3 linked regions of the Homo sapiens genome follow. The protein of the gene in region 3 purifies or fractionates together with the protein of the main gene of each other region. This does not show direct contact. Each region holds a gene or a part of one and is shown on either strand. Other genes may lie near its edges.

Region 1 (7,291 bases), on a different chromosome or scaffold from region 3:
ATTGTTAAATAGATCTTTTTTATTAGATATAATTGTTTTTGAGACAGTTTCGCTCTTGTTGCCCAGGCTGGAGTCTAATGGCATGATCTCCGCTCACCGCAACCTACGCCTCCCAGGTTCAAGCGATTCTCCTGCCTCAGCCTCCCAAGTAGGTGGGATTACAGGCATGTGCCACCACCCCTGGCTGATTTTGTATTTTTAGTAGAGACAGGGTTTTTCCATGTTGGTCAGGCTGGTCTGGAACTCCCGACCTCAGGTGATCCGCCTGCCTTGGCCTCCCAAAGTGCTGAGATTACAGGCACTAGCCACCTCACCCAGCCCCAGGAGATTTTTTTGTGTTGTGCCAACAAATAAGCCTAGGCAGGGAAATTCTTTCTGGTGGTTGGAATTGTTAGTACTGAATAGACTAGATGCGAGGTAAAGAACCCCCATGGGGTTTTCTGTCAGCTCAGAAATCATTGTGACCTCAGTCTTTTACTGTGAAATAACATGACCATTAGGAAAGTAGCCTTAAACAACGTATTTTGGGTATGTTGAGAGGGAGGGACAATTATGATCTGTTCCAAAGTGAACATAACAGATGATCCCTGTGTCTGTGAAGCCTTTAAAATTTATAGTGCTCTTCTATTAATTTCAAGTAAGATTTAGAGTTATTGTGACATACTCTTAAAAAACCTGCAGTGTATCAAAAGGCACGTTTTTAAAGCATCTTGAAATGAAATTAATAATGTAATATCTACTTCTTCAGAATAGTAGTTTTTACATTCTGAAGACTGACTGACTGCTCTCAGCCACTTCTGAGTTCTCTATTTTCAAAGAATAATTTGGTATTCCATAAAGGAAATCTGTAAATAAGAGAAGAGAGTGAATATCTTTTAACAGTGTTTTTCCTGATCTTTTCCAAACATCTTCATTGTGGTTCTGTCCTTTATTTTTTGGTTAAATCCAGAGGTTTACTTCTGCCTGTATCTTTCCAAACTATTAATCTGTTCACAATCACTTTCCCATTTAAACCCTTCAGCAGCCCCAGTACCTTCGTAATAAGGTCTCCTTAGCTTGGTATCCAGAACACTTCAATACTGGGCTTTGACCCCTGTTCTCCTTCCCCTACCTCTGTTTAGGTGCTTCACTGAGCTGCACTGAACAGCTCTTGGCCCCTTGAAATCTCTGCAGTCTCCTTGTCTCCCTCTGCTGGAATATTCTTCTCTCACTTCATCTGATCATTGCCTTCAAAACTCAGCTCATTTTCTTATTTCCTTGCCCTTTTCATGTCCCTTGTTTTCCTCCGATTAAATTAATGTTCCAAACTCAAAAGAAAAACAACTCAGCTCAGGCATCACCTTGCCTGGAAGGCTTCCCTAGTCCTCCTGCCTCCTGCAGACTTGTCTGGCACCCTGTGCATTTGGGATTTGGCACACTATGTCTCGTCTGCGGCCTCCACTGGACAATGAGACCGTAAGTGTGTGGCTTGACAGAAAGTTGTTGACTCTGCTGGGGTGCTGGTACAGTGCTGGGCACGGCAGTGTTACAGAGGAAGTGAGCCACTTAGTTTCTGCCCTTAGGAGCTTTTATTCTAGTTGCACTTGACCCTGACAGCTGTGAGACACCTCCCAGTAGTGCGTACCAACTTTTCAAAGTCTGTTTAATTGTACCTTAGTGTCTGATTCCAATTTTATTTCTTGAAGGAGGGGAGTGTCTCTAATGTCTTATTTTGGCACCCAGAGACCAGGTAGGCATCATTTTTATCCCAAATTGTGGAAGGAATGTACATTTGACACAGATCACTTCCCTTTTTTCTCTTGTACACCTTTCACCTTTTTTTTTTTTTTTTGAGTTTGATGTGTTTGGACAGTAAGGGTTTAAGAGATTAAGATTAAATTTCAACTTTGTCTATTGTGCATATAGCCTAAGGAAAACAAAAAGTTAAAGAGGAAAAATACATTGCCTCTAAAAAGAAGACTCATTATTCAACTTTTTTTATTTTTAGTTGTTTTCAGAGACTGAGTCTCACCCTATCACCCAGGCTGGAGAGGTGATCACAGCTCACCGTAGCCTTGAACTCCTGGGTTCAAGGGTTCCTCTTGCCTTAGTCTTCTCACTAGCTGAGACTGCAGGCCCGCACCAGCACACCTGGCTAATTTTACAAAAATTGTTTTTGAGAGACGTGGTCTTGCCATCTTGCCTAGGCTGGTGTGGAACTCCTGGGTTCAAGCAAACCTCCCGCCTTGGCCACCCTAAGTGTTGGGATTACAGGTGTGACCCATTGTGCCCAGCCTAAACTTTTTTTTTTCAATGCTGAGCTGTACACAGAAGAAAGTAAAGGTCTTGGTCAAGCCTAGGAAAGAAGTATGCAAAGAAACTGGTGGCAGGCTGGATGTGGGCATATTTCAGGGCTTTGGAAGGTGAAGAGGAGAGGACTGCTTGAGGCCGAGAGTTCGAGACCAGCCTGGGCGACATAACGGGACCCTGTCTGTACAGATAAACATTTTATAATTAGCCAGGTGTATGTACCCTAGAACTTAAAGTATAATAAAAAAAAATAAAATTCGCCAGGTGTGGTGGTGCGCACCTGTGGTCTCAGGTACTTGAGAGGCTGAGGCAGGGGGATCTCCTGAGTCCAGGTGTTTGAGGCTGCAGTGAGCTAGGGATCACACCACTGTTCTCCAGCCTGGGCTACGAAGCGAGACTCTGTCTCTAAAGAAAAACATACTGGTGGCATTGTCAAGATTTGTCAAGAAATAGCCATTATGCTGGACCCAGTGGTGCGCACCTGTAGTGCCAGCTTTTCAGGAGGCTGAAGTGGGAGAATCTCTTGAGCCTAGGAGTTTGAGTTCAGCTTGGGCAGCATTGCAAGAGCCCAGTCTCAAAAATATTAGGTCAATAAGGTTTATTTTAATTAAACAAGAAAAAGAAATATCTGCTAAAATTTAAAGCTATTCTATTCTTCCTCTCTCTCTTCTAGTGTTCTTGGGGAAGATCCCGACTAAGCCATTTTCCAGTGGCACCTCTTCCATCATGAGTTCCTGAGGCAGTCCGATGGGGCTACTTTATTCCAGAACAATCACAGTGAGACCTTTTCTCCCAATAAATGCCCCTTTTCTCTCCTTAATATATTCTCTTGCTTACAAAACACTGGTGTCTCCTTATCATGGTTTGGTTCTACCCCACTGGGCCCAAGAATTCTTGCCCAGGAGCAACTGAATTTTCTTCTTGCTTGCTTTTTAAAACTTTGGTGGGGTAGAGCCAATTTTAAATCTTCTGATCCATTTTTTCATTGTTTTTCTCGCCCTTCTGCATTTTCTGCAAATTCTGTTGAATCATTGCAGTTACTTAGGTTTGCTTCGTCTCCCCCATTACAAACTACTTACTGGGTTTTTCAACCCTAGTTCCCTCATTTTTATGATTTATGCTCATTTCTTTGTACACTTCGTCTTGCTCCATCTCCCAACTCATGGCCCCTGGCTTTGGATTATTGTTTTGGTCTTTTATTTTTTGTCTTCTTCTACCTCAACACTTATCTTCCTCTCCCAGTCTCCGGTACCCTATCACCAAGGTTGTCATTAACCTTTCATATTATTCCTCATTATCCATGTATTCATTTGCAAATAAGCGTATATTAACAAAATCACAGGTTTATGGAGATATAATTCACATACCTTAAAATTCAGGCTTTTAAAGTGTACCTTTCATGTGGTTTTTGGTATATTCACAAAGTTATGCATTGATCACCACCATCTGATTCCATAACATGTTCAATACCTCAAAAAGAAGTCTGTACTCATTAGTAGTCATTTCACATTCACCACTCCCTCTGGCTCTGGGCAGTCACTGATCTTTGTGTCTCTATGGATTTGCCTAGTCTAGGTATTTTTATGTAAATGGCATCATACAACATGTGACCTTTTGTTTGGCTTTTTTCATTTAGCAAAATGTTATCAAGGTCTGTCCCTGTTGTAGCATGTATTAGCACTTCATTTCTTATATGCTGAATGATATACTTTATTTGTCCATCAGTTGTTCATGCTTTATTTGTCCATCAGTTGATGAACATTTGCGTTTTTGCCACTTTGGGCTATTAAGAATAATGCTACTGTGAACAAGTGTGTACAAGTTCCTCTACAAATTTTTGTGTGGACATATCCTTTCAGTTCTCTCAGGTGTATATCTGGGAATTGAATTGCTGGGTCGTGTAGTAGCTATGTTAAACACTTTGAGAAACTGCTATAATGTTCTCCAGAGCTGTACCATTTTAAATTCTGTGTATGAGGATTCCACGTTCTCCACTTCCTCACCAGTGTATGGATTTGGGGGTATACTTTTTAAAAAGTGGGATTAGGCTGGGCACAGTGGCTCACACCTGTAATCCCAACACTTCAGGAAGCTGAGGTGGGAGGATCACTTGAGCCTAGTAGTTTGAGACCAGCCTGGGCAACATAGGGAGACCCTGTCTCTACAAAAAATAATTTAAAATAAATTAGCTGGGCGTTGTGGCACACACCTGTAGTCCCAGCTACATGGGAGGCTGAGGTGGAAGGATTCCCTGAGCCCAGAAGTTTGAGGTTGCAGTGAGCCATGATGGCAGCACTATACTGTAGCCTGGGTGTCAGAGCAAGACTCCGTTTCAGGGAAGAAAAAAAAAAGTGGGATGATATTTTTGACACTTTTCTTCTTGTTTTCTTAATTTCATACTTCTGGAAATTCCATTAAATTAGCTGGTACCACTCTAACTCATTGTGTTTCATGGCTGCATAGTAATATTGCATAATATAAATATACCATTCATTCATCAAAGTTAGCAGATATTGACTGTTAGGTGCCAGGCACTGCTCTAAGCGTTAAAGAAAAACACACAAAAACTTTTGCATTCTTAGAGTTTATTTTCCAATGGAGGGGGTGGAGGGAGGTAAGAATTTAGGAAATAAATTAATTACATATATAGCATAGGGTTTCACCAGTGAGTGCAGCTTGAATCGTTGGCAGCTTTCTTAGTAGTATAAATACAGTACTAAAGATGAAATTACTCTAAATGGTGTTACTTAAATTACTGGAATAGGTATTACTATTAGTCACTTTGCAGGTGAAAGTGGAAACACCATCGTAAAATGTAAAATAGGAAACAGCTGGTTAATGTGGATCTGGAGTTTTTCTAGGACATAAACTGATGAGCCAGAAAAGTAAATGTGTCAGTCCTTGGTAGCACAGTTTGTACGTTTATAAATTTTATCCAAATCCTCTTAATCTAGTGATTAATAGACACTCTTCACAAAAGGATGAGGGAGGTATATGTATATGTGTTGAAAGGTTCCGAAGGATGCAACCGAGAGTACTTCGGGGGACGTGGCAAAACTTCCAGGCCCATTCAAGAGTCTTGTTTTCTCCCTGAGCTTTTATGTATTTATTATATTGCCCTATTAATTATTGAGATTGTGCCTTACAGTAAAAGCTGCTTTAAATTGTTGACGCTATAATTTAAAATAATCTGGGTCACCTAGAGTGGTTAAACCTGGAAGAAAAGGATATCCTTCCTGCCAGGGCAGATTGTATGTAGATATGCAACCTGGTTGCGCCTGTGCTGACCTCTACTCTGTTGGGCCTGGAAGTATGCAGTTCAACGTTTCTCTTCTGATTTTTAAAAAAAATTTGACTTTGTTTACTTTTTATTTTATTTTAATTTAGAGACAAGGTTTCACTATTTTGCACAGGCTGGTCTCAAATTCCTGGGCTCAAGTGATCCCCTTGCCTCGGCCTCCCAAATACTGGGATTACAGGCATGAGCCACTGCACCTGGCCTTAACTTTGAAATGAAGTTAGAAATGTACATTTTATTTTTTTAATTATTATTATTATTATTTATTATTTTAGAAACAGGTCTAGCTCTGTTGCCCAGGTTGTAGGGCAACAATGGTGCAATCACAGCTCACTGCAGCCTCCACCTCCTGGGCTCAAGTGATTTTCATGCCTCAGCCTTCCGAGTAGCTGGGATTACAGGCATGTGCCACCATGCCCGGCTAATTTTTTGTATTTTTAGTAGAGACCAGGTTTCACCATGTTGCTCAGGCTGGTCTTCTGACCTCAAGTGATCTGCCCGCCTCAGCCTCCCAAAGTGCTGGGATTATAGGCGTGAGACACCACGCCCAGGTGAACAGAATAGTTTTCCATTCACCACAGTTTGTGACAGTCTCTACATTGTGAAGTGACAAGTTCTCTTCTATTTTCCTTCTGCCCCTCATCACCTTTTTCTTCCTCATTTCTTTTTTGAATTTTGCTGTCTTGAATTGATGTCTAAAGGATGACATAGCAGACAAGGGGACTGACACATGAACTCTCATGAGTTACTGAGGAGTTTCTCAGTGCTCTGTCTGCATCATCTGCTCACTCTCTCCTTCCTAGGTGCTAGCCTGCCAACCTGCTTTGAGAAATTGGAAATGAATTGGGGGGTAATCAGCCTCCCCTTGTACATGTAGGGACCGCATCTCCAATGCCTTGCTTTACATAATGACGAATGGTGTTTTGCTTACCTACTTCCACACAAACTGCTGATATGGTTAGGATTTGGGAAAGGGGAAGAAGGGAATTTTGGGTTTTGAGGAGTAGCTGGGGCTTGAACAAAGAAGAGGTAGTAATGAACATTCCTGGGGTGAGGCAATTAGTTAGCTGAGGGAGAAGAAGGCATATAATAAATTAGGGATTGACAGACTGTCTGTAAAGGGCCAGACAGTAAATGTTTTAGTCATTGAAGACCTTAAGGTCTCTGTTGCATCTAATCAACTCCATCATTGTAGTGCAAAAGTAACCACAGCCACTACAGATGTGAATGAATGTGACTATGTTTCAATAACATTTTTTTTTTTTTTTTTTTTGAGACAGTGTCACTCTGTTGCTCAGGCTGGAGGGCAGCAGTATGACCACAGCTTATTACAGCCCTGACTTCCCAGGCTCAAGTGATCCTCCCACCTCAGCCTTCCAGGTAGCTGGGACTATAGGCATTTGCCACCGCCCCCCATTAGTTTTTGTATTTTTTTGTAGAGGCGGCGTTTCACCATGTTGGCCAGGCTGGTCTTGAACTCCTGAACTTCTGGGCTCACGCTCTCCACCCTACTCGGCCACCGAAAGTGTTGGGATTACAGGCATGAGCCAGTGTCCAGCCCAAAATAGTCTTTTGATTTTTTTTCCCCCAACCATTTAAAAATGCAAAACATTCTTAGTTTTTGGGCTGAAAAAAGACAAGTGATGGGTCAGATTTGGCCCCGGATTGTGGTTTGTTTACCCCTGTTACAGAGGAACAGGAAGC
Region 2 (7,324 bases), on a different chromosome or scaffold from region 3:
TGATTTGCATGGGAGAGGGACACTGAGAAGCTATTTGGGAGTGGAAGAACTAGGGCTAGAGACAATAGAGAGAGGTCAATCAAGAGTTCATAACCCTAGGGAGGACAGAGCTCCCTTAGAGAAGGTATAGTGTCCCCCAGAGACCACAATGCCTAATGGAATGCAGAAGATGTTCGGTGGACAACCAGCAGACACTCTCGGGGCTTCCCAGAGATTCCCAGGGGGAGACGTTGCATCAGCTGGGAAAGGGCTCCAAGCCAGTGCATTCAGAACGTGAGCACTGAGTCGACATCTCTTGCAAGCACTTGTAGGCGCCAGTGACTGAAATGTCTGCATTATGTGTGGCTGTGTCTAGAAAAAGGAAGACGAAAAATAATCATTATCTCTGAGTATAAGATTATGGTTATTTTTTAACTTTTAAATAATTTTTCAAAAGTTTCTGTGATGAGTATTTTGTTTATTGTATTTTATTTTTTGAGACAATCTTGCTCTGTCACCCAGGCTGGAGTATAGTGGTGTGATCTCAGCTCACTGCAGCCTCTGCCTCCCAGATTCAAGCTAGTCTCCTGCCCCAGCCTCCTGAGTAGCTGGGATTACAGGCATGCACCACCACACCTGGCTAATTTTTGTATTTTTAGTAGAGACGGGGTTTCACCATGTTGCCCAGGCTGGTCTTGAACACCTGACTTCAAGTGATCCACTCGCTTTAGCCTCTCAAACTGCTGGGATTACAGGCGTGAGCTACTGCACCCAGCCTGTGATGAGTATTTTATAATAAGGAACATCACTCATTTTTAAACCATCTCTGGCTTCCTTATGTTCCTCTTGCCTCCACGCCTCCTGCTGCCCCACCACGCACACACACTCTGTGTTCTCATCTATGCATAAGAATGGAAACTCTGGCTTTTGCTGGGGTTCTGTCCCCCAGGGCACAAGAAGGAACCGGGGTGTAATAGGCCTGGGCTTGACTTGGTAGTTTGTAATCTGCCTAGCTGGCAGCCATGGCACAGCAAACTCAAGCTGGGTGACCTCCAGGCACTTCATACTTTTCGGCATTAATAAAAATCACTGCACTTTGTTGACTTTGCTATTTCCACCCACAGGGGAATGTACAAATACATGAAATGTACATGAAATCTGCTAAATGATCCATTTAACCATGTGGTAAACACTCTGTATACCTGTTTCCCCTGCCAAAACAGTCCCCTTTGTGATATTTTACAGGGTCATTTGATTTAATTCCCTAAGTCAACACAGGGTTTGTTTTCTTATAAAGGAAAAGAGGATAAGGCTTTTCAAAATTAACTGACTCAGGACAGTTTACCTTGAGGGTAAACCAAAGGACATTATGAGAAAGGGTGCAAAGGAGCTTCTGGGTTCTGGTAATGGTGTTTCTTAATCTGGATGCCGGTAACTTGGGTTTCCTTTGTGAACATTTATCAAGCTGTACACAGGATTTGCACATTCTTACCAGTCTCACCACAGCCTCCTCCTCGACCCTCTCCTCCTGGCTGGCTCCCCACATCCTTCACTCCCCAGGAGGGCGTCTCATGACTCCTCAGTGGAGGCACTGCCTACTTTTTCCTGTTTGGGTGTCTCCTAGAACCTGCAAATCCCCTTCATAGCACTAATTGCAAGAGAAATAATCTGGCTGCTTTTGTGGTTATTGGTTTCATGTGTGTCTCTCACTAGATTCTAAGTCCACTGGGCTTGTGTGTCCGCTGGACCTGCTGCTGTGTTCCCTGAGCCTGGTGCAGTGCCTGGCAACATGGCATGAGAAACAGTTTGTAAGAGAATGTTGGAGAGGCAGAGAGGGAGACAGAACAGTGGGGTTGGGGGAAGAAGACAGAAAGGAGAAGGGGAAGGAAGGAGAGAGGAAGAGTTATGTCTCTCAAGATCTGGGTATTCTGAGGCATGGCTACAGGTTGGTGAGTGGGAGCACTCAGGAGTGTGTTGACATGATTGAGTAAGGAGTCTCTGGAGAAAGAAGTCTCTCTCAGAGAAGGTGGTCTCCCTGTGGGCAAGATTGGTTCAAGGACTGTAGCCTAGGTTCATAAGGGGAGGACGGGGACCCTGAGCCTAGTCTGGCTCCAGTTTTCTTCTGGCTCGAAGTGATTGCAAAAAAAGAGCTATTTCTTTGCATTTCTTTAGGACACTGAGCACTAAATGTCAGCGGCATGAGTGCAGGAGCCAGTCACATCAGGGGCAGTCATGGCGTGGCAGAGGAAGTGCAGGTATGGCCACAGCACAATGGCAATGACGGCATTTCCTACACCCACAGTTGGCACTCGAAGAACAGCCCTCACAGGCCAGGCTTGGACAGCCATAGCAGGATCAGTGTATTTGGTAGACACAGGTAGTGGCAGGGGAGGCCCCAGTGGGGCTCCGTGACACAGAAGCCATCACATACAGTGAAGGAGATCGAGACTCAGAGGGAGAGGAGGGCTGTGGTGGGTCCCATGCATGCCGCAAAGGACTGCATCTCAGGGCAGCTATGCAGTGCTCAGCAGGGAATGCCAGAAAGGCATTGGAAGCATTTAAGGGGCATGCCACACGGCCTTCAGAGTTGGAGCAAGTCCAGCTAAGAACTTACTGTTAGGTGTTGCCCAGTTTATAGCCTTCGGCTGGAATTCTCTGGAAAAAACAAATCACTGAGAATTGGCTTCTAAAGAGCACCTATAAATGGGAGGAAGAACACCAAAGAATCAAAGATGCCAGAAAAGAAAACAGCCCCTGGGATTTGTGCACAGGTGTTCTTGACAGGGTCCCTCACCTAAGCCATTCTTCCGGCACAATTATCACCCAGAGCGGCTTGTTTCTTGGCACCTAGAACACTCCATCGGGAGCTGTTTCCCTTTTTAACTCAGTACTCCCAAAGACTGCTCTGGGGATAACAGCTCCCACTCTTAGGGGGAAAAATATATTTTTAGAGATGGGAGATGACAAAACCATCATCAATAAGCAAGAAAACTCCCAATTAATTTTCTTGAGACACTGTCTTGTGATATATCCTTGTGGGTAGGGCTTTCTGAAGCATTTTCTCACCATTTTTTTCTGAAACTATGGCTTTCCAACATTTTTCATTGCATGCTCTATTAGTAAAATCATTTTGAACATGCACCACAGATATCTGCGTATTTATTCACTGATGATGTTTATGCAATAGTGTGTGTGTGTGTATTGTTTACTGTATTTATAGTGAAATTTCTAATAGAAGGTGTCCGCTGGGATGCAGGAATCCCACTAAACAAACACAAGGCAGACAGGGTAAGCATCATAATCCTCAGCTCACGGATTAATAGACTAAGATGGGAAGGGACTTGCCCAGGTCACACAGCCAAAAGTTGCAAAACTGGGGTTAAAACTCATATCCATACTTTCCAGCTTCTCAGATTCTTCATTCATGTGCCAAATATCCCTTTCTACTCATCAGAATTTGGGAATGGACCAGTCATAACAGTTTTTGGTGATTTCCACATTGTTTCCCTGTTTTACCTATTTTATCATTATTGCCTATAGCATAGGGTGTGCCATGCGATCAGGGTTCTGGAACTGGCTTCTAAAGAGCACTTATGAATGGGGATGAAGAACATCAAGGAATTAAAGATGCCAGAAAAGCAAATAGCCCCTTGGATTTGAGAACAGGAAACATGCACTTTACACGCCTCATCTCTTTCTGCCCCATCCAGCAAGCAGGGATGATGCAGAGACCTTCCCTGGGTCTCGCCATGCCCAGGAGTTAATGTGTTCTACAATGTATTTGTAGAAAGAAGATACTGCGTCTAGTAGAAAGAGATGTGATATGATTGACGTGGAGTGGCCACTCTTGATGCAGGAGACATGGCAATTGTACTTTCCTGTATGAGAATGAGGCCTGAAGGAAGGTTGCTTCCCTCAGTCTTTTCTCAGCAGAGGGGTTTTGTAAAACAAACCAAAACAAAACACAAATTCCCTGAAGCAGAATAAAGATAAAGAAACTTAAATATCTGGAAACAATGAAAACTGCAAGAGCCAAGAAACGGGCAGCTTAGGGGCCCCAGGAAGTGAGGTGGGATAAGGCAGAGATAGGCTTGGGGCGGAGAATCTGGAAGCTGTTGCTGTTTACATTCAATGTCCTCTCTCTCTCCAAGAGGTGGCAGGCCACTGCCCAATGCTGAAGTCACTGTTTAACGAAGGTGGAGCCTGCCTTTACCTGGTACACCCATATAAGGAAAAGCCTGAGGTCAGGAGTAAGCAGACACCAGCACTGCTCTTTCTCCAAGACGGCCGGCCATGCTCTCCTCCTCTGCCAGTCTCCTCCACCACTCTCTAACCTGAGAGCCTGTGGAACCTGCCCGTCTCCCCTCCTCCATCAGACACACCTGCCTAGGAAACAGGTAAGTTGTGCGTGGTCATGTCCCAGAGCTGTGGACCAAGGCAGTCCTCTAAACATTAGTGAGCATGTACAATTTTCTAGAGAGCTTCATGATGTCGCTTCTGAGTTCCCACCTCCCAAGGTACATATTCAGTAGCTCTGGAAGCTGGGTTTTTTTGATGCAGGTGGTCCAAGGATATGCTTTAAGAAAAACTAGGGCAAAGTGGGAGTTAATTTTCTAAGAGAATCTAATCCAAACTTTGCATATTTCATGCAAAGAGAGTATTTCTTAATCATTCTGTCACCTTCGATTTCTGATCATTCTAAGTTGTGACCTTGAGGGCTGTGTTCACCGTAAGGGACACATTGATGGCAGAAATCATGTCTTCTTTGTGCACTGATGTGTAGTTTCTGTTAGATAGTAGGTGCTTAATAAACATTTGCTAAAGGGAAGAATGGGACCTGGGCCCTTTGTTTTCTAATCATCTAGCTTATTAGTTATAGGAATGAAGTTGACAACTCTGGGTTAATCACAAAAGACAGATCATTACAACTTCAGAGATTCAGGAGGTTCCTATATGCCTCTAGTGGTGTCATGGTCACACACATGTGTCTCTGTAACTGCTAAAGTTATGTAATCTTTGAGATGTGATGCTGTTCTCAGGGAGACAGTTCCAGCTGCTCAGCTTGGACCCAAGTTAACCAGATTAGAATAAGTGCAGATATTTTCCCTCTATAGTTACAGTTGGGTCATGAACTACTGACTGTCCCATTTGTCCTGGGTCACAAACACAACTTTGGTTACCCCCGAGTGGCATTAACTAGACTTTCAATCAGATTATCCTCTTGAATTGTCTCACCTTTGTACCCACCTTGACATAAGTATTGTGGGTTTTTGTTGTTGTTGTTGTTGTTGTTGTTATTTTGAAGGTTGGAGGAGTGACAGCTGTAGGGAGGCTTACTTATTAGTAGATTGGTTGATGGAAATGTAATAATCTACCAACTGTGTAATAGGCAAAAGCTATATATAGCATGAGTTCATTATCCCATTTTGTAGATGGAAAAAGTGAGGGACCGGTGAGTGACTTGCTGCAAAAGTTTATACCAGATGCAAATGACAGAGCTGGAGTTCTGCTGTGCCTGGTAGGTACCCTGTCTTGTCCCCTAGTTATTTGGTTGTATTCAGTTACCCTCTTGAAAGAACACCTTAGAAGAAAAGATGCTATGAAGAAATGCACACATTAAGCCAAGCACTGTGGCTCACACCTGTAATCTCAACACTTTGGGAGGCCGAGGTGGACAGATTGCTTGATCCCAGGAGTTCAAGACCAGCCTGGGCAACATGGTGAAACCCTGTCTCTACAAAAATAAATTAAAAATTGGGGGTCTGGGAAAAAATATTAGCTACATGTGGTGGTGCACACCTGTAGTCCCAGCTATTGGAGGCAGGGGGAGGGGTCCATGGTTGAGGTGAAAGGATTGCTTGAGCCCAGGAGGTTGAGGCTTCAGTGAGCTATGATCATGCCACTGCACTCCAGCCTGAGTGACAGAGCAAGACCCTGTCTCAAAAAAAAAAGACCAACCTACTGGCCCTGAGGCTCACTCCGTATCAAGCATTGTGCTTGATGCTTCCATATGGTGAGCTGTGTGATTTGGGGCATGCTCCTTAACCTCTTGGGGGTCCCAGTTTCCTCATCACTAAGACATGGTAGCAACAGTAATCTACCCCAAAAGATCAGTGAAAGGATCAAATGAGATCCTATATGGAAAGCACTTAGCAGTACTTGAGCACATGGCAAGTGCTGAAGATATTTTAGTCATTATTGTTGACATTATTTTAGCCTGGGTTCTCTATAAAACAAAGCCTGAGGCAAAGCTTAAGTGCTACTTAGCACTTAAGGTAAGACACCAGGGGAGTGAGAGTCAGGGAAGTGGGAAATGGGAAGAGAAAAAGGGGAAGCAGTGAGGGATGATGTGCCACCACCTGGCCTCTCTTCACAAAGAGACATGACCAGCCACTTGGCCAAAGCAGGGCCCCTCTGGACTGGCGTTGCAGATGCATTGTGCCTTGGAAGAGTCTATCCGAGCAAGGGTAGAGAGGACATTTATATGTTGGCTCACTCTGTCTCCTCTCTTATTGTTCAAAGCTTGCCCTATGGGGAGTTAACTGTCCTGCACTTCCAGCTTGTGTCTTCTGACCCCTGTGGCAGCCACTGGGAAAACTAGATCTAATTGCTAGAGGCTTGGCACCTCATCTGAGTCCAGAAGTGGTCAGAAGAGCCACTTCCTTGGCTGGAGTAAAAAAGGGACCAAGAGTCCTAGAGACAGGTTGAGGCTAAGAGAACCTGAGATGGCACCTAAGAAAGGTTTAATAAAGACTGAATTATCATTAATATCTGCTGAACACTGCGTACAGCACTAATGTTCCTGCCTAGATGTCACCTCTTTCTCCCATGAGAAAACCATAAAGGGGACTTTGGATAGGCTGGTCCATTCCATCTCTCCTCAAGGTTTGGAAGAAGTCAGGTTGAGGGCATCCTAACTCTCTCAGAACGTCCATGGTGGAGCATGCCACTGATAGACAGCAAGGAAGTCCACGGCCATGCAAAAGATGGGAGCAGAATCAAGAGGAGGTGTTGATTTTCTACCACCCTTGGGACTCTATCTTTTGGTCAAGTGTTTCCTAAAGCATGGTATACATAGAACACTAATTTTGGGGGCTGTTGCTGGGGGCTCCTTGATATAAAGCATTTATGATCAAATATTTGGATGAATGTTGCCTCCTACTCTTCCCTCCTCAGAGAGTTATGATTCCAATTTACTTAAAAAGGCTCTGTTCACGCCTGTAATCCCAGCACTTTGGGAGGCCGAGGTGGGCGGATTGCCTGAGGTCAGGAGTTCGAGGCCAGTCTGGCCAACATGGTGAAACTCTGTCTCTACTAAAAATACAAAAAAATTAGACAGGCATGG
Region 3 (8,146 bases):
CAGTACTTTGAAAACAGGTATCAACATTGATGTTTGAGGCCTGGCGCAGTGGCTCACTCTTGTAATCCCAGTACTTTGGGAGGCTGAAGCGGGCGGATCACTTGAGGTCAGGAGTTCAAGACCAGCCCGACCAACATGGCGAAACCCTGTTTCTACTAATAAAACAAAAATTAGTCGGGCGTGGTGGAGCATGCCTGTAGTCCCAACTACTCGGGAGGCTGAGGCAAGAGAACTGCTTGAACCCGAGAAGCGGAAGTTGCAGTGAGCCGAGATCATGCCACTGCACTCCAGTCTGGGCGACAGAGTGAGACTGTCTCAAACAAACAAACAAAAAGAACAATGTTTGAGGCAGGGCATGGTGGCAGGAGCCTATAGTCTCAGCTACTGGGGAGGCTAAAGCAGGAGGATCACTTGAGCTCAAGAGCCTGACAGCAACCTGGGTTAACAGAGCAAGACCCTGAAAAGCCTTCTATGTAGTAACCAGACAAGGTACAGATCTCCATACTGGGCACCATCATATAGATGGCTATTGCATCACACAGACAACCTTCATTAAAGGAAGACACCAAGACAGGAGCTGCTCAGGGGCCACTGGGCACTGCGGTTAGAAAGCCAGGACAAGACAGGAAAGTCAGTCTGCTTGTCAAGAAAAAAATGATGGATCTGGTGAGGTATAATTCCTGCTAAAAAAAAGTTTGCCCTGGCTGGGCACAGTGGCTCACACCTGTAATCCCAGCCCTTTAGGAGGCTGAGGCGGGTGGATCACTTGAGGTCAGGAGTTCGAGACCAGCCTGGCCAACATGGTGAAACCCCACCTCTACTAAAAATACAAAAATTAGCTGGGCGTGGTGGTATGCACCTGTAATCCCAGCTACTAGGGAGGCTGAGGCAGGAGACTCGCTTGAACCTGGGAGGCAGAGGTTGCAGTGATCCAAGATGGCGCCACTGCACTCCAGCCTGGGCGACAGAGTGAGACTCTGTCTCAAACAAAACAAAAAAAACCCAACATAATTAGAAACAAACCTACTGTATACTAACCAGTCCTGAAAGGCAAATGGTATCTTTATGTTCAACAGATGTTTACCAGGGTCTTTAAAGAGCTAGAGCTCCTAACAACAACTCCACAGAAAGGAACAACAGAAACTATTAAGAAATAGTTCATCCACCTAAGTTATGATTAAATAAAGGATTTAGGTCGGTCGCGGTGGCTCACACCTGGAATCCCAGCACTTTAAGAGGCTGAGGTGGGTGGATCACCTGAGGGTCAGGAGTTCGAGACCAAGCTGGCCATCATGGTGCAACCTGTCTTTACTAAAAATACAAAAAAAAATTAGCAGGGTGTGGTGGCAGGTGCCTGTAATCCCAGCTACTAGGGAGGCTGAGGCAGGAGAACTGCTTGAACCCCGGAGGCAGAGGTTACAGTGAGCTGAGATGGCGCCACTGCGCTCCAGCCTGGGTGATGGAGTGAGACTCTGTCTCAAAAACAAACAAAAAAACACAAAAACAATAGGGAAGAAAAGGATTTAGTTAAAATTTAGTATGAAAACAAAACAACAGGTTGAAAGCCATTCCCAGAGTTACACTTGAGTGCTGAAAGAAACCCAGAGCTTTTCAGTCCAACAATTCGGCCCCACCTGCACGGTCTTCCTCAGCATACCTCAGGTACATTTCCTGACTGGCTCCCTGATCTTCAATTGAGAACGTTGTTGCATCCCGGTTTAGATGGTGGTAAGAGCAGATCACTCTTCATTGGCGACACATCTGTCCTACTAGAGACTACAACCTCAGAGTTTTCTGCTGTGAAATTCTTATCAGAAGCCTGACTATGGGCAGACAGAACATGCAATATTCTGGGTACTCTAAATTTACTCCTGATCATCAAAAGCTACATATTCGCAGAACTGCTTTCAATGACTTGCGCTTTTGAATTATGTCACTGCTGGCCTAGAGTGGTGGAAGGAAACTTGCCATTGTAATGACTGAGAGATTGTGACTTAACAGGTCCGGGGTGGGGCTGGACATCTGGATTTTTAATAAGCTTGTCACAGATGTGTCCCAAGGTTGAAAATGACTGCCCTGTTTTGCATAACGTGGAGGGTTGTTGAGACTATTGTCATGGTGTATTTACTGTGTCCCCCTCTTAAAGAAGAGCCACAGGGGCAATTTCCCTTAGGTCTCAGTCCTGAGCTGATCTTACCAACACCGTGAAACTGACTGATGGTGTTTAGAGGCAAACCTACCGCTCCTTTAAAACATTTTTTTATTCATAATCGACACACAGTAATTATTCCTACTGATGGGGTGCGGTGTGCAGCATGGATGGACATATACATTGCATAGTGATCAAGTCAGAGTGTTTAACATGTCCTCGACCTCAAACGTATTGTCTCTTGGTGGTGAGAACATTTAAAACCCTCTCTTCTAGTTATTGTGGCACATACAGTCCACTGGGCAGGACCCAAGGGCGGCATTGTGGGTGTCGTGGCAAGCACAGGGCTTTAGAACCAGAGGCCCCGGTTTAAAGCCCCGCATCATCTAGGTTGCATAATCTGTTTCTCATTAATATAATGGAGACGATGCGTCCCTCGCCAAAACGCCGTTAAGAACTCACAGGCAAAAAAGTGTAAAAAGCCTGGGCCGGCGTCCGGCACGACACTCGGGGCCAGGGAGCCAGGGAACCAGGGAACTGGCGCGTACGGCGGACCCGGGGCTCCCAGCTCCTCCTCCCCCCCAGAGGCCGCACCTGCGGCGCCTGCCGCGAGGGTTCGAGAGCCGCCTCCGGCCGGGGAGGGCAGAGGCCGGTGGGGCAGCGGCAGCGGCAGCGCGCAGGGCGCTCGTCCCCCCGAGGCCGGCTTCGCGCGCCGGCGCCGGGCGCTTTGTTGGAGCCAGGCCCGGCCCCCCGGGCCGCCGGCCGCGTCGGGCTCACCTGCAGGCGGTGGCTCTTGACTAGGTGCATGTTGAGCGCGGGGCTGTTGGGCAGGATCTTGCCGCAGCCGCGCACGGTGCACAGGATGTTGGTCCGCACGGCCCGGGACAGCTCGCTCACCGACGGCTGGATCAGCTCCCCCGCCGGCGGCGCGGGGACAGCGGGCTGCTGCGTCGCCCCCGCGGGCCGCGGCCGGCTGCCCCTCAGTCGGGGTCCCGGGGGCACCCACGGGCCCGAGGCGGCGGCGGCGGCTCCTGTCGTGGCCGCCGGGACGGCCCGGGCACCCGCCGCCAGAGCCGCGGACCCCGCCGCCGCCGCCGCCTCCGAGGCCGCCATGGCTCCCGCACGGCCGCCCGGCCCAGTTCGTAGGCCCCGCCCCCGCCGCAGCCACTTCCGGCAGGGGGCGAGGCCGCCAGGCTTGTTAGCATCCGGCGGGCCCAGGCGGCCGCGGCGCCCCCTGCCGGCCGCGGAGGGCGCGCCTTGGAGGGAGAGGACTTTAGGTGACGCCGCCAGGAGGCGAAATTTCACCTGCCAGCAGGTAAAAGGTATTGCCCCGCCTCTCTAATCGATCCATTCTTCCTAGGAAAGTGACTTCAGGCAGTAGTCACATAAAAGAAAAAGCAATACGTTGAGCAATGCGTTTACTTCCCAAAGATTAGAAACAACCCAAATGTCTAGTGGCAGGTGAGGCAGAAGTACACTGATTTCCGCCGTTGTTTATTACCTAGGCCTTACTGGGTACCAGGTGGGTCTGGTGGATGCACTTTTCATGCTGTGTCTCATTTTGTCTTCAAAACGACTGTAGCGGGTATGTACTGTAACTTGCCCCACCTTGTGCAGAGAAGGACATTTAGGCTTATATAAATTAAGTAACTTGACCTAGACCACACTATACAAATGAAAAGATTGTTATTATTGATAGGATTAATCATTTTAAGAAGGCTGGATTTGCTTGCTTCTATTTTAGCTGCTGAAATTAGGATTACTGTTTGGGAGACACTGCAGTTCAGTATACGATTACAAAACTTAATACTTAGACTGGGTAGTTCATGTAAATGGACATAGGAGGCTGGGGTAGACAAAAGGGAGGGGTGAGGACTGCAGTGAAATTGGAAACACATCCTTTATTAAAAGGGGGCAGCTGCTACTCATCTTTGGTATGGCTAGAGTTTTATGTGAAAATTTCCACCTTTTACATACTAGCAGCTATATTCGTTTTCTCTTGCTATTAATAAATTACCACAAACTTACTGCCTTAACACAAATTTATTATCTTCCAGCTCTGGAGGTCAAAAGAAATGAGACTGCTGGGCTAAGATCAAGGTGTCAGCAGGGCTGTATTCCTTCCCAAGGCTCCAGGGGAGAATCTGTTCACTTGCCTTTCCCAGCTTCTAGAGGTTGCCTACATTCCTTGGCTTGCGGACCCTTCCTCCATCTCCAGAATCAGTAACGGTGAGTTGAGTCTTCGTCACATCACATCACTCTGATTTCTTCAGTAGTGATCCCTCTGATTCTTCTATTCTTGAGGCCCCCTGTGATGACATTGGGCCCATTCAAATCATCCAGGATAATTTCTCCAACTGCCAAGTCCCTTTGCCTTGCAAGATAACTGTGATAATGTGAAGTATATATTTGGTCTTTGTCCTGGCATGCAATTCCTAAAATCCTTGGAATCAGCAAATTGGTGTTTTTTTGTATGCTAATTAGTTGACTGATGACTCACAGTCCCTAGGTAGCTTTAGGATGGGACTGGTCACTGGAAAGACCAAGGTAGGATTAGAGGCTTGAGACTTTCAGCCCTCCCCCTCAACCTCTGGGGAGGAGACAGGGGCTGAAGCTTAAGCTGATCAATCATTCCTAGGTAATGAAGCCTCCATAAAATCCCAAAAGAAATGGGTTTGGAGAACTTCCAGATAGCTGAATGCATGGAGTTTCCTGGAGGGAGGCGCACTCAAAGAGGGCATGCGTGGAAGCTCTTGCCCTATGCATCTTTTCATCTGAATCCTTTGTAACATCCCTTGTAAGAAGTCAGTCTATGTGTCTTCCTGAGTTCTGTGAGCTGCCCTAGCAAATTAATTGAACATGAAGAGAGGGTTGTGGGAAATGCAATTTATAGCTGGTTAGTCAGAAGCGCAGGTGAAACAACCTGGGGCTGGCAACTGGCCTCAGAAGTGGGTGGCAGTTTTGTGGGACTGAGCCCTTAACCTATGGGGTCTGATGATATCGCCAGGTAGTTAGTGTTGGAATTGAACTGGAGCATACCCAGCTGGTATCTGCTGTAGAACTGATTGCTTATGTCAACCAAGAAGAGGTGAAAGGGCCAGGCATGGTGGCTCACGCCTGTAATCCCAGCACTTTGGGTGGCCGAGGCAGGGCGGATCACGAGGTCAAGAGATCGAGACCATCCTGGCCAACATGGTGAAACTCTGTCTCTACTAAAAATACAAAAATTAGCCGGGTGTGGTGCGCACGCCTGTAATCCCAGCTACTCAGGAGGCTGAGGCAGGAGAATCGCTTGAACCCAGGAGACGGAGGTTGTGGTGAGCCAAGATCGCACCACTGTACTCCAGCCTGGTGACAGAGCAAGACTGTCTCAAAAAAAAAAAAAAAAAAAAGAAGAGGTGAAAGACCACACTGCAAAGCAGTAAGACAAGGCATTTTTTTTTAATTAAAAAAAAAAAAAAGAAAAGAGACAGGGTCTCGCCATTTTGGCCAGCTTGGGGTCAAGTGATCCACCTGCCTCGGCCTCCGAAAGTGCTGGGATTATAGATGCAAGTTACCACGTCCAGCCAAACAAGGCATTTTGATTGGGGTCTTAGAAATTACAATTTGGGAGACACAGATTCACCTAGAAGCCAAATGGGGTTCTGAAAAGAGGGAGAGAAGTAGATGTTTTTAAAAGAAAGCAGAGGGTTAATACACAAATTGTTTTGAAAGAATTATCATTGGTGGAGGTGGCTGGCTTAGTACATGAATCCATAGTTGATTGGTTGCCGCTGTTCAGGAGTTGTAGCACTGGTGAAATTCAGTTTTCCAGGATGTAGTGGTTATTGCAGTTTTGGCCCAGTTCAAAGCTTCAAGGCAAGTTCATATTTTTTGTTTTTGTGTTTTGCAAGTTGCAGATTGTGCAGGCAGTCCTTCTTAGAATGGCTTCCCAACTCCATTTTAGAGCTCTGAACCAAAGTGATGCCATTTTGTGTATCACTTTTCACATTTTCCTTTTTTGATCAAGATCCGAGGCAGCATAGCTGATTAATCATTGGTTGGTTGGCCACAGATTAGTTATCTGTTCCCCTTAGAGCTAGAAGCACCTGTGTCTAGAGTGTTATGTCCCACAAAAAGTGGTTGTCAAGTCAGTGCACATCCAAGCTTCCAAGATTGGTCAAATTTGAGTAACAAAGGGTCCATTTTAACAAGGAGGCCTGCATTAGTCTATAGCAGTTAGCTGTATATCAGGAGAGACATACATTTGATTAACCATTTAAATGTCTAAATGTTGTGACATCATGATTTTAACATCTTGGATACAATGGGACAAACAGAAGGTACAAGTCCTTCTGCCAGCTGCTCGGGTCCTGGGTCCCTTGACTGTGGCTTCCAGAATAGCAGAGCAGCTTTTGGATCCTGCAAACAAGTGCTAAAAAAAAAAAAACACTGAAAATCAACTGATAAAAGACGGATTAATAGGAGAAAAGACATACAAGTTTTATTAACGTGCCTGGTGGGGAGGGGAGGCATCAGAGTGATGATTCCCCAACCCCCAATGGGGTGTGGACGCTTATATACCCTTTTTCATAGGAGAGTAAGGAGATGGGGAACGTGTGTAATTCTTCTGAGGAGCAGTAAATTATTATAAGGGAGAGTAAATGGACCAGGGAGACAGAAATTAACTTGTAAATGATTCTCTTTGGAATCTGAATGAGCCTGAGGGGCAGGCCTTATGAAAAGGTCCATCCATATGTGGCTCTATTCCTCAGTCTTCATTTTTTGATAGATAATGAGATTTGAAGGACAGAATAGAAGGCAACTGTGTTTCTTTTAGTAAGAAGCTTTCTTAGTCAGACAAGGAAATTCCAGAGGGAGTTCCTCTCTGCCCTTGGTTGAGGCAAGAATAAGACAAGGTTGGAGGGACCTTGACTCTCAAGTGTATTTCTCAGGCCTTTCCATTTTCAAAAGCATCCAGCATGCCAAAGTACCATCATTTTCTGTGCCTCAATATTCCCTAGTCTGAAATTTCCCTAGTAGTTTCACAAATGAAACAGTGAGTTGGCCATGAAGAGAAAAATCAAGTTAAATAGAATTTTGGCTGGGCACTGAGGCTCACACCTGTAATCCCAGCACTTTGGGAGGCCGAGGCGGCAGGATCACTTGAGGTCAGGAGTTTGAGACCAGTCTGACCAACATGGTGAAACCCTGTCTCTACTAAAAATACAAAAATTAGCTGGGCATGGTGGCACGTGCCTGTAATCCCAGCTACTGGACAGCTGGCAACCAAGGACGTTGGATAAAGAACCTCAACCAAGGTAGGGGGTTAAGGAATGAGACAACTCGTAAACAGAATCCGTGGCCATGGGAGAGGTGTGGAACACAAGGGGTTCCTCCTGCAGGAACTGTGCTCGAATCCGTGGCCGCACCAGAACAAAGAAGGGAGTTGCTTTTTTGTCCCACTCAATTCTGACACCATTTAATGTCATCCAAGGGGCAAAAGACCACACTGCAAAGCAGCAAGACAAGGTGTTTTTATTGAGGTCTTAGGAATTGCAATTTGGGAGACAGATTCAGCTAGAAGCCACTTGTGTTCTGAAGAGAGAGGGTAGAGGAGGGGTTTTTAAAAAAAGCTGAGGGTGATTAGACAAGTTGACAAGTTGTTTTGAAAGAGGCAACTGGCTTAGTACAAAAATCCATAGTTTATTGGTTGGTGCTGTTGAGGAGTTGTAGTGCTGGTGAAATAAAATTTTCCAGGATGCAGTGGTCATCGCAATTTGGCCCAATTCAAAGGTTCAAGGTAAGCTCCTGTATTGTTTTTTTTTTGGAGCTTTTAATTTTTTTTCAAGTTGCAGGTCATGTAGGGAGTCCTTTTTAGAATGGCTTCCTCCCTCCATTTTAGAGCTCTGAACCAAAGTGATGTCATTTATTTTATTTTATTTATTTATTTTTTAAGATGGAGTCTCACTCTGTCACCTAGGCTGGAGTGCAGTGGTGCAGTCTCGGCTCACTGCA

What was found.
Region 1: the proteins of ATMIN (region 3) and SPECC1L purify together in Homo sapiens (affinity purification with mass spectrometry; 2 studies listed by BioGRID and IntAct, with this or other methods). This does not show direct contact.
Region 2: the proteins of ATMIN (region 3) and CAPN13 purify together in Homo sapiens (affinity purification with mass spectrometry; 2 studies listed by BioGRID and IntAct, with this or other methods). This does not show direct contact.

What each region holds. Positions count from the first base shown.
Region 1 is NC_000022.11:24,273,738-24,281,028, forward strand, and holds part of SPECC1L (cytospin-A), read left to right. Parts: intron 1-2,962; 5' UTR 2,963-3,066; intron 3,067-7,291. UniProt on the Homo sapiens protein: Involved in cytokinesis and spindle organization. May play a role in actin cytoskeleton organization and microtubule stabilization and hence required for proper cell adhesion and migration.
Region 2 is NC_000002.12:30,804,354-30,811,677, reverse strand, and holds the start of CAPN13 (calpain-13), read left to right. Parts: upstream 1-4,231; 5' UTR 4,232-4,376; intron 4,377-5,411; exon of another isoform or gene 5,412-5,497; intron 5,498-7,324.
Region 3 is NC_000016.10:81,030,987-81,039,132, reverse strand, and holds the start of ATMIN (ATM interactor), read right to left. Parts: upstream 3,292-8,146; 5' UTR 3,263-3,291; coding exon 2,927-3,262; intron 2,397-2,926; exon of another isoform or gene 1-2,396. Other genes in the region: CENPN (centromere protein N), read right to left, coding at 6,439-6,563. UniProt on the Homo sapiens protein: Transcription factor. Plays a crucial role in cell survival and RAD51 foci formation in response to methylating DNA damage. Involved in regulating the activity of ATM in the absence of DNA damage. May play a role in stabilizing ATM.